Regions from separate parts of the Homo sapiens genome. Here regions 2 and 3 are each reported to be linked to region 1. The links are microRNA targets in miRTarBase. Many come from high-throughput screens and were not tested one by one. Region 1 holds a microRNA gene; each other region holds the end of a gene's coding sequence.

Region 1 (3,261 bases):
GAGTGCAGCGGCGCGATCTCAGCTCACTGCACCCTCCACCTCCTGGGTTCAAGCGATTCTCCTGCCTCAGCCTCCCAAGTAGCTGGGATTACAGGCACACACCACCATGCCTGGCTAATTTTTGTATTTTTAGTAGAGATGGGGTTACACCATGTTGGCCAGGCTGGTCTCAAATGCCCGACTTCAGGTGATCCACCCGCCTCGAGCTCCCAAAGTGCTGGGATTACAGGCGTGAGCCATCGCGCCTGCCTTTACTTTCCCATTCTTAACGCCTCCCGTTTCAGACCTGTCCCCTTTTCCCCGCATTTCTGACTGTCACGGCACATCACAACCAGCAGACAGGGCTTCCCCTATTTCACAGGAGAAATAGAAGCCATCAGATGGGACCTCCTTCAAAGTCCTGCCACCAAACCTCAGCATGTACCTGGACCCACATGTATCCTCTTTTCCTTTGGGATTGAATTAGAGAGGTGCCGCTCGAAACCCGCTCCTGGGTGGGAGTCTTGGCTCTATCAGTTATGCCTCTATTCTGTATGTTTAACCTCGCCCTCGTAGGGGCATAAAACAGCATTTAAACAGGATCAAGCTTTCCATTTTAAAACTCCATACACTCCCTTAATTTCATCTCCTCCTCCACCTACTGCCCCATGTCTCTCCCTCTTCCTGGCTAAACGTCTCAAAAAAGTGGATACACTTTCTGTCAACTCCTAAACACTCCTCACGCTCATTTGGCCTCTGCTCCTCCCTTCCTCCTCCCACTTCATTGGAACTACTTCTGCCAAAGAGGATCCCTGAGTCAGCCTGACTGGTAACCCCAATGGACTCTACTCAATATGCAACATCCTTCACTTCTTAGCAGAGTTTGAAACAGCCTGACTCTCCTCTTCTGGCAACATTCTTTTCCTTGGTTTGGGGACGCTGTACTGTTCTGGTTTTGCCCCTCCCTCCGAGCATTCCTTGTGTTTGTCCTGGCCCATTTTCTCCTCTCATTCTACATCCTCTCCCCGGGGATTTTAGCTTCTCTCACGGCTCAGGTTACCATCTCCATAGTGATGACTATCAAATTCTGTACCTCATTTCCAGAGGCTCCTGACAGACTTGCTTGGTCAATATACTACTGGACATATTCATGAGACTGTCTCACACAGGCATCTCGAACCCAGTGTGTCCCACAATTCTCTTCCTATCCATGCCTGTTCCTCTTCCACTGCCTCATATGTCGGTGACTGTCCACCTTCTCTCTCTCTCCCCCTCTCCGTTTGGCTCATAGGAAAAGTGTCACCAAGGGCTGTAAGTGCAGATTTCTAATTATCCCCTAAATTTGAACATTTTTCCTCTCGAAAGTGTATGGCCATTACCCTATTACAGATCAACATCTTCAATCACTGGAATGATGGCAATAATCTAATTGGGTTCATTTTATCCTCTATCTAACAATGACAACTCATTGCCTACACAGCAGGTAGAAGGAGTTTGTTTTCAGAATTGCCCTCTGACCTATTTAAGACGCTCAGATATTCCCTGAGGCTCCTTGGCCTGGCCACAAAGGCCCTACACATTCTGGCTGCTTCCTCCTTTCCAGCATCCTCTCTCACGTCTCCTCTCCTCAGTTCCACCCTCAGGAGGCACCAGAATTCCTCACTTCTTTGACTACAAGGCACCGTCTTACTCCCAAGACCAGTGAATCCGAAGGTGGACCACCAGCTGAGGGACTAGATTCCAGACTGAATAGAACAACTTTCCCTGTCTCTCCACATAAAGTGTGTTTGTTTTTCCTCTTACAGGTTTCCTTAATGACAACAAAAAAGGGAGTAATCCTACCCACTGTAAGAGTCATGACTCTTGATTGCAGCTGACAGAAACTCATGACAGCCTGCTTTAGATGAAGGGGGAGAGAAGGACTGGAAGAATCTTGGAGTTGGGAATGTCACACGTAATTGAAGGAAGAACAAGAAAACTATAGTAAAGAACCCTGGGGTGGTGATGTAGTCATGGGCCAAGTGTCCTGGAACCCTGGGGTGGTGATGTAGTTGTGGGCCAAGTGTCCTGGAACCCTGGGGTGGTGATGTAGTCATGGGCCAAGTGTCCTGGAACCCTGGGGTGGTGATGTAGTTGTGGGCCAAGTGTCCTGGGTTTTGGGTGGAGAAAGAGTCCCCTAGATAAGTTATTAGGTGGGTGCAAAGGTAATTGCAGTTTTTCCCATTATTTTAATTGCGAAAACAGCAATTACCTTTGCACCAACCTGATGGAGTCCCCCTTGCCATGCTTCTCTCTGTGAAAAACCCCAAGCCGAAGTCAGCATAACATCCACAGGACTCTATGTTTGCAAAAGCCAGCTTAGCTATATTACATGTATAAGCACATTTTTTCAATAAGTCAGCCTTAGCTTACTGTAACTTTTTAACTTTATAAACTTAGTATTTTAACTTTTTAAACTTTTTTGTTGAAAACTAAGACACAAAAACACATGTTAGCCTAGATCCACACAGGGTCAGGGTCATCAGTATCACTGTCTTCCACCTCCACATTTTGTCTCTCTGGAAGGTCTTCAGGGGCAATAACACACATGGAGCTGTCATCGCCTGTGGTAACAATGCCTTCTACAGTACTTCCCAAAGGGCCTGCTAGTTCACTTAATTCTTTTATAGAGAGAAGGAGTACACTCTAAAACACTGATCAATAGTATATTATAGTAAATACATAAACCAGGAACACATTTATTATCATTATCACGTATTGTGTATTGTACAGAATGGTGTGTGCTGTGCTATCCAGGAACACATTTATTATCATTATCAAGTATTGTGTACTGTACAGAATGGTGTGCGCTGTGCTTTTATGCAAGTGGCAGCACAGTAGCTTTACACGAGCATCACTAGACACATGAGTAGCATTGCACTCGGCAACAGGAATTTTTTCAGGCCCATTATTATAATCTTATGGGACCGCATCCTATATGCAGTTTGTCATTGACCAAAATGTCCTTATGCGATGCATGACTATATTTGCAAAGGACTAGTATCTAGAATACATTTAAAAGTCTTAAAATAGTAACAAAACAAAGAATGCAATTAGAACATGAGCAAAAGATACAAAGCAACATTTCACTGGAGAAGATATACAGATTGCAAATAAGCACATGAAAAGATGTTTGATACCATTAGGGAAACGCTTCTTTAAACCAGGAGATATCACCACGTGTTAGAATCAACAAAATAAGGCCAGGCATGGTGGCTCACACCTGTAATCCCAACACTTTGG
Region 2 (3,261 bases), not on the chromosome of region 1:
TAAAGAAAATAATTACAAAGCAGTGTGATCAGTGCGACAACATGGGAGGGGAAGAGTAAAGGACCAGAACAAAGGAGCATCTAATTTGACTGAAAAGGGCTTTAAAAAGCCTATGAAAACAGAATCACTGAAGCTGAGTCCTAAGAGGTAGGTAGGTATTCACTTGGTCACAAAGAAGGATGCAGAAGTAATGATGTGTGCAAGGCTACTGAGGTGGAAAACACACAAAGCGCATTTAGGGAAGAAGTGGAAGTACTTGCAATTGATCAGGATGCTCTAAAAAGAGGGATAGTCTGTGGTTCTAAAAACCGTATTAAAAATAATTTAAATCTTTATACTTAGAAAGCACAAAGGTATTTTCATAAGAAAACTTGCTAAAATGCTAAGTTAAATAAAAATCTTAGCTGTGTAATGATAAACAAGGGGGCTGGGGCAGGAACTGAGAAATTCCCTTTGCCACAGAGGCTCTATATCAGAATTTGTATGTTTACCAAAAGCAGCCTGGATTTTAACTGTTTGAGCAACACTGGACTAGAACATGATTACACAGGATGACTGCAGAGACATGGCTGGGAAGGTAGTCATTCTGTGTTGCCCTGATCTGCGGAAAATCCCAAAAAGAGAAAACTTACAAAGCAGAAAGGATTTTATATAACAGATGAGGACTTGACGTTTGGAAACACTGAGCTTAAAATTACTGTGGGATGTCTAATGAAGATATTTGATAGACAGTTAGAAACAAGGTTTAGAAAGCAAGAGATAAGTCAGGATACAAGTTACAGGTTTGAGACTCAGTCTGTTATTACAGGTGGTAAAAGAAGCCATAGTTATGAATGACATTGTATAAAATATGTAAAGTAAAAAAAAAAAAGAGAGAGAGAGAAAAAAATATAGTGAAGATCAATACCTAAAAGGTAGGCAGAAAGTGAGACAACACTTTGTGGGGAAATGAGAGAGACAGCGAAGATGAAACCAACATGTAGCACAGAGTCGCCTTTGATAGGAAGCAGGCAACCTCTTTTCCTCTAAAATGGGAAAATGAGTAAAGTTGGTAAATACAAGTTGACCTCTTCATAGTCTCAATTTTCTGTTCAATAGGAGAAAGAGCCATATGCTAGGGGAGGGGCAGAGGGCCTAAGGAAAGTAATGAAGTTTGGCTCAGCCACAGCGGGAAATGGGAGAGAGGCCACCCTAGTAACAAACATAAGGTTTACATTGAGGGCTTTTCTAAGGCTGAAGTGAGACACTTGTAGTGATTCTACTTTGAAGGACTACCCATCACAAAGAACTCAGCATCCCCGAAAAGGTAGATAATAAATAGGATTAATCTGAGGTTGAGGGCTTGCCAAAGGACTAGACTAAAAGACCAGGGAAAGAAGAATAACTGGTGAGATTAGTTCATATAGTATCCCATAAAGCTGAGGGTGGATAGGGAAGAAAGCCTGAAAGGGGCTGACAGTTTAGGAGGAAGGGGAGCAGTCAAGAAAAGGGGGTAAGAAGGAACTGAAGAATGTGGAATGAGCATAAAGGAGAGAAAAGTCAATAAAATAAGGAAGTGAAAAAACTGAAAAGAGGGCAGTTATCAGTTACTGAAATTTTACCAGAAAGAGAAACTCAAGGTGGTGACATTCAAAGTGCGGCCACGGGAGTAAGCTGCTGGAATGTAATAAAGTCACTGGGCAGAAGTCCAAGGTATCAGCAAGGTATCAGAAAGATCATCCAAAGATGACAACAGGAGTTGAGGTAGACAGAAAGACCATGAGCAAGATATCAAGTTAGGCTCTCTGGCCTTTAACACTCACCCCTATTATTAAAGGCAAAAAACATTAAAATTTCAGTATGTTATGAAAAGATGTGCTACAAAAACATATGAACTAATGGTAGACTAACCTAGCTTGGTTTTTATCTTCATTACTCACTTGAAAAGCCATGCATTGTCTTTTAAACAAAATAGAAAAATAATTTTTAAATTTTTATAAAATGCCTAAGGGAAGTAGAAATTTTAAATACAATTAGTAATACATGGCAAAATAATTAAACACAATGATTCCTTTGTGAGATCTTTCATTATTTACCTTATTGAAAATGGAATCTGAATATTAGTCATAATCTTTCATTTTGCCTACATTTATATCCATAGTATGTATTCAAAGCAGTGAAGTAACTTGACTTTAATTTCTGAAGCATGGCAAACTTCAAGGTAGTGAGATTTAAAAATAATCTAAAGATGATAAAAATGGTAAACTTGTGTTACATATACCACAATAAAAAAAAAAAGTAATAGAAAAAATCTTTGTAAAGCTAAATTGGGTTACTACTCATTATTAGTGACATAACATCTGTATTTTAAGGTGAGTTTGAACAACACTTTAGAAATTAAAGAATCATCCCTTCATAGGTTTACTAATATATAATGAAAAAGATGGTGATGTTGTTTTAGTAGGGTACCCAAGCTGGATATCTTTATGCAGTGTAATGTTCTCATATTCAGTATCAACAGGTCTTCTTTTTTGGAACTCTCTTTTCCATTTCATGGGTTTTGTTGTTTTTCTATTTGAAAAGGACTAGATGAACTTACTAGTTACAGCGATGATGAAAGAAGTTTAAAATTTGTTTTGCATTCGTTGTATTCCATTCTTGTTCTTTCAGGGGTCCTTCACACACAGATACATACTTTTTCAAGATTTTTTCTCCTACTTCTCGGAAATCCAAGGGTTCCTTGTATGTAGTGCAGCCCGCTCCAGACACACTAGTATCCACTTCATGATTTTCTGGTTGCTGATCAGCACAATACTTCGATCCCCAGTAACACATTTCTCCACTGTACATCATAGCCAGCAGATGAATGTCACTAAATATTCCTGGGAAAGTCATTTAGGTTGACAGATTAGAATTAAAAGCTTAAAAAGAAACCGTAGTTATTAACTAAACTCTAATTAAAGTTCCTTTTGTCATTAAGCATTTTCTATTCTCACTTTAACAGTAACACAAAAGCCAAATATGACTAACACAATCTTCATTTAATTAGCATTTTTTAATATCGATTTTACTGATAAAGGAGGCCCATTACAAAAAGAAAAACAGAGTACCAGAGAATTTTTTTAGAGAACCATTTAGGTGTTTTTGACCTTTTTGGGGTCCACTCTATAACTTCTTTGAGAATCTAATTTAAGGAATAGAACTTCTCCCAGAATATACACCCCAAATTCTGCAGTCAATTTCAGAGTACTTATAAACTCCCTGAATTACATCCATGGACAC
Region 3 (3,261 bases), not on the chromosome of region 1:
CCCCCAGGATTCAATTACCTCCTACCAGGTAACTCCCATGACACGTGGGAATTATGGGAGCTAAAATTCAAGATGAGATTTGGGTAGGGACACAGCCAAACCATATCATCATCTGTCCACCTATGGCCTTCATCAGCCCTTCAGGTAACTTAGTTTTTGACACCTGTTTCCTATTTCACTTAATCAAATCTATTTTGCTTTTGTATGTTTTTTTTCCACTTTTTCAAACAGAAATGTTTGCTTGCCAGTGATAAGCTAAGTTGGTAGGTAATGAATAACAAAATGACCTGGATATTTTCTAAGGCCTTTATTCCCCCTTGGTTGTAATCTTAGTTTGAGAGAAGCCATAAGGATACCCAGTTATTTGTAGAATGGATACATACACTTGAGGTGACCATGAAGTCAAAGAATGGGACATAGAGGACTACTCTGCTTAGCTAGTTTTTTTTTTTTCCTATTTTCCCATCCTTGCAGAATCAGATTCATAAAATTTTAGAAAGATTCTCACAGTTCAGCCATGGTTGTGACAAACTCTGAATACCAGAGGACACAAAGGGAGAGGAAAAACTGTTCTATTTTTTTTCCCCAGGTACATGTGGAAAAATTTTGCTGCACTGAAAATAACCCTTGCCTTTCTCTTGCTCCAGGCTGCCCTTTTCTTGGGCCTGGGGGTGTTGTTCTCCTTGGTCAGCATTCCCTTGGTCATCTATGACTGGGCCTGCTCATCGAGTAGTGACGAAGGCCACTGAAACCCGCCGAGAAAAAGAAACATCCCTGTTGTCTGCTCAGTCAAGTCCCCACACATCAGCAATCTCTCACCACTTCTTTTGCAAGTTTACAGAAGCAAACAGAAATGTACAGGATACTTAAAATGGAATAACTTTTTGGTTGCAAAACAGAGACATGGTTCTATAATGCTTCATGTCCCTCCAAGATTTGAGATCAATTTAGGGATTGTGAAATTTTTTTTTCAAATTTCATACAATCATATTTCCCAGTACTTTTCACAATCATTTTTTACCCATCTAACTCTATGTTTTGTGGCTTCCCGGTCTCTTAGAACTTTGAAAACATGATATACAATAATGTTTATTTATTATACATCCAGATTCTGAAATAATTTTCCTACTGATGTTCAGCTCACACTATCTGTACCTTTTTAGAAGAGAAAAGAATCTTGAATTGTATATATTTATTTTGCTTTACAGAAAAAAATGGTTTCGTAAATAATTTGCCTATTTTGGTTAACATAGCACATGGAGATAATCATCTGAAAGTTATAGGGCACTGCCACTGCTGAATCAGAGCATGCCCAATATTTGAGGTGGCTCTGATTTCCTGGCAGCTGAACTCGGGTAGTCCAGTGGCCTAGCTGGTACCACATCTATTCCCATCCAGAGACATTCTCTGGCAAGTGTTCTCAGCTGAAAAGTGGTTGGGGATGATTCTTACCTTGGTAATTAAATGAAGCTACACATTTGGGTAATCTAGCAAATGAAGTATTTTTTCCCTCTTGGCAACTTGTGTCAGAGTTACTCTGGTCTGAGTCAACTTTCGCTGGGGAAAACCTATGGAACCTACTGCAAAAAGATTGTCCAAAATGCCTAAGAAAATACTCCTCTGATGCATTTAGCCTTCAACCCTACCTGTCTTGCTGAAGGGAGAAAAATGTTTTAGTACATTATAGGCCCAGCAGCTTTTATTCATGTCCACCAGCTAGTTGCACAGAGAATCATGTGTACCTAACTAAGGATGATCTAGGATAAGTAACTCCTGTTTTATATTGAGTATTTTAGGGAAGTCTTTAAAAGACTTGTTTTATATCTATAAATCTAGGTTATTACAAATACAAGAATTTTGTACCTTAAATAAGCCTCATTTCTATTTCTTCTTCATTAATTCTCCATCTAGTCTTGTGAAAAAAAAAAAAAAAAAACCCTCAGAGATAGTCTTTGTGAAGAGCTTCTGACAGAATCACTGAGTACCTTCCTTCCCCCAGATGAGGAAGACAAGGGGGTCTCAGTGTCTGTGCTGTCTCCTCTTCTCTTCCCCAACCAAGGACTGTGCCATTACTGCCCGTCTCAACTGTCCATGCAGGAGGACAGAGTTGCCTGGTACTCTTACCCTTGTCCCTCTCCTAAAGGGAGCACAAGGAAACTGAAGAGACTGAAAAAGAAGAGAGTTTGTAGCTGAAAAAGAATAGGGATAGCAAGGAAACCCAGAACTGCATTCCCCTAAGTGGGGCCATCCCATGTGATTGAATTGTCCATAGCTTGCCTATGGTGAGAAATGTGCATGCTCCGTGAGCTGGTCTCTTGAAACAGGACTTATGCTTCCTCTATATTCTGGTTAAATTTTCCAAACACATAAGTTCACTGAGCACAGATTTCTTATCCAGAGACAAGTAGAATCTAACCGCAGACTGTTGGCAGAGTTTCCAGGCACTTAGCCATGTTCCCTTCCTGACTCAAATCCCCAAAGGCCTTCACTCTCACTGAGAATCACACTACTGTCCCATAGATAAGGCAGGCATTGAAGCACCTGTCGTGATCCTCTAGGGGGGAGAATGAAAGGTTATTTCCTGCATTGCATCATCATAGCTTTTAATATAATGCTACAGAATCATATCCACATTAGGTTAGAGTTCAGATATTTGGATATGAATACCTAACCTAGCCATATCCATGGCCATCTCTGTTCTTTTCAGCAATGTTTTCCATATTATATTAGCAATGACAGAAACAGAACAAGCCAAGATCCAGTCAGTTCTTGGGAGCTTGTCTAGAGCACCAAGTAATGAAATAGCCAGGTAGTGGGATGACTGTACCTTTAAAAATACATAATTTAGTTTGCAAGCTATATTATGCTACTTTCTATTTTCCTTGTTACTTTATAGCAATTCATTTTACCCTCACAAAGTCAATTTAGAACCTTATCATTAACTGGGATGTGTAGTGATATTTTTGGGCCTCTGGGTTTCATGTGTCAATACAAGGAATATTTATTTAAAATAGATTTATTTAGAGGAGGCACAGTGTTGTTGATCTGTGTGACACCACCCATATTTTTAAAAACCTTTGTATGTTTCTCTAAATTTGTTGTTGACTGAATATAATAGACCCTACCATAATTCGTCAAATATCACTGATTAGTTACATCCTTTGTGTGAGATTAGCTGTAAAGTATACTGCTCTTATTCTTATTCAGAATAGTTAATTGGTAGCCAAAAATACATGTATCACAGATGTTAGGTCGAATTTA

What was found. Region 1 holds the annotated microRNA hsa-miR-548ai (AAAGGUAAUUGCAGUUUUUCCC, at 2,180-2,201, shown strand). A microRNA usually pairs through its seed, bases 2 to 8, with sites in the 3' UTR of a target mRNA and lowers its output. Matches are read on the target gene's strand: a 7mer-m8 pairs with bases 2 to 8, a 7mer-A1 pairs with bases 2 to 7 and ends in A, and an 8mer does both.
Region 2: the mRNA of RIMOC1 is a reported target of hsa-miR-548ai. The part of its 3' UTR that is shown has no 7-base or 8-base seed match.
Region 3: miRTarBase lists SLC38A1 as a target of hsa-miR-548ai. Seed matches in the 3' UTR shown: 7mer-m8 at 1,449-1,455 and 7mer-A1 at 1,861-1,867.

The regions. Positions count from the first base shown.
Region 1 is chr3:195,697,246-195,700,506 of GRCh38, forward strand. It overlaps MIR570 (microRNA 570), which reads left to right and starts at 2,156; the gene lies at 2,156-2,252. The region is part of intron 2 of MIR570HG (MIR570 host gene); the gene reads left to right. It overlaps LOC124909477 (a long non-coding RNA gene), which reads left to right. Exons shown (of 2, transcript XR_007096227.1): 2 at 1,785-1,825.
Region 2 is chr5:41,916,616-41,919,876 of GRCh38, reverse strand. It overlaps RIMOC1 (RAB7A interacting MON1-CCZ1 complex subunit 1), which reads right to left. Exons shown (of 6, transcript NM_175921.6): 6 at 1-2,861. The coding sequence ends at 2,578. Among named protein-coding and RNA genes, the nearest start is that of FBXO4, 7.0 kb to the left of the region's middle. RefSeq lists an enhancer at 1,371-1,530.
Region 3 is chr12:46,186,458-46,189,718 of GRCh38, reverse strand. SLC38A1 (solute carrier family 38 member 1) reads left to right here. Exons shown (of 17, transcript NM_030674.4): 17 at 648-3,261. The coding sequence ends at 749. Among named protein-coding and RNA genes, the nearest start is that of SLC38A1, 81 kb to the left of the region's middle.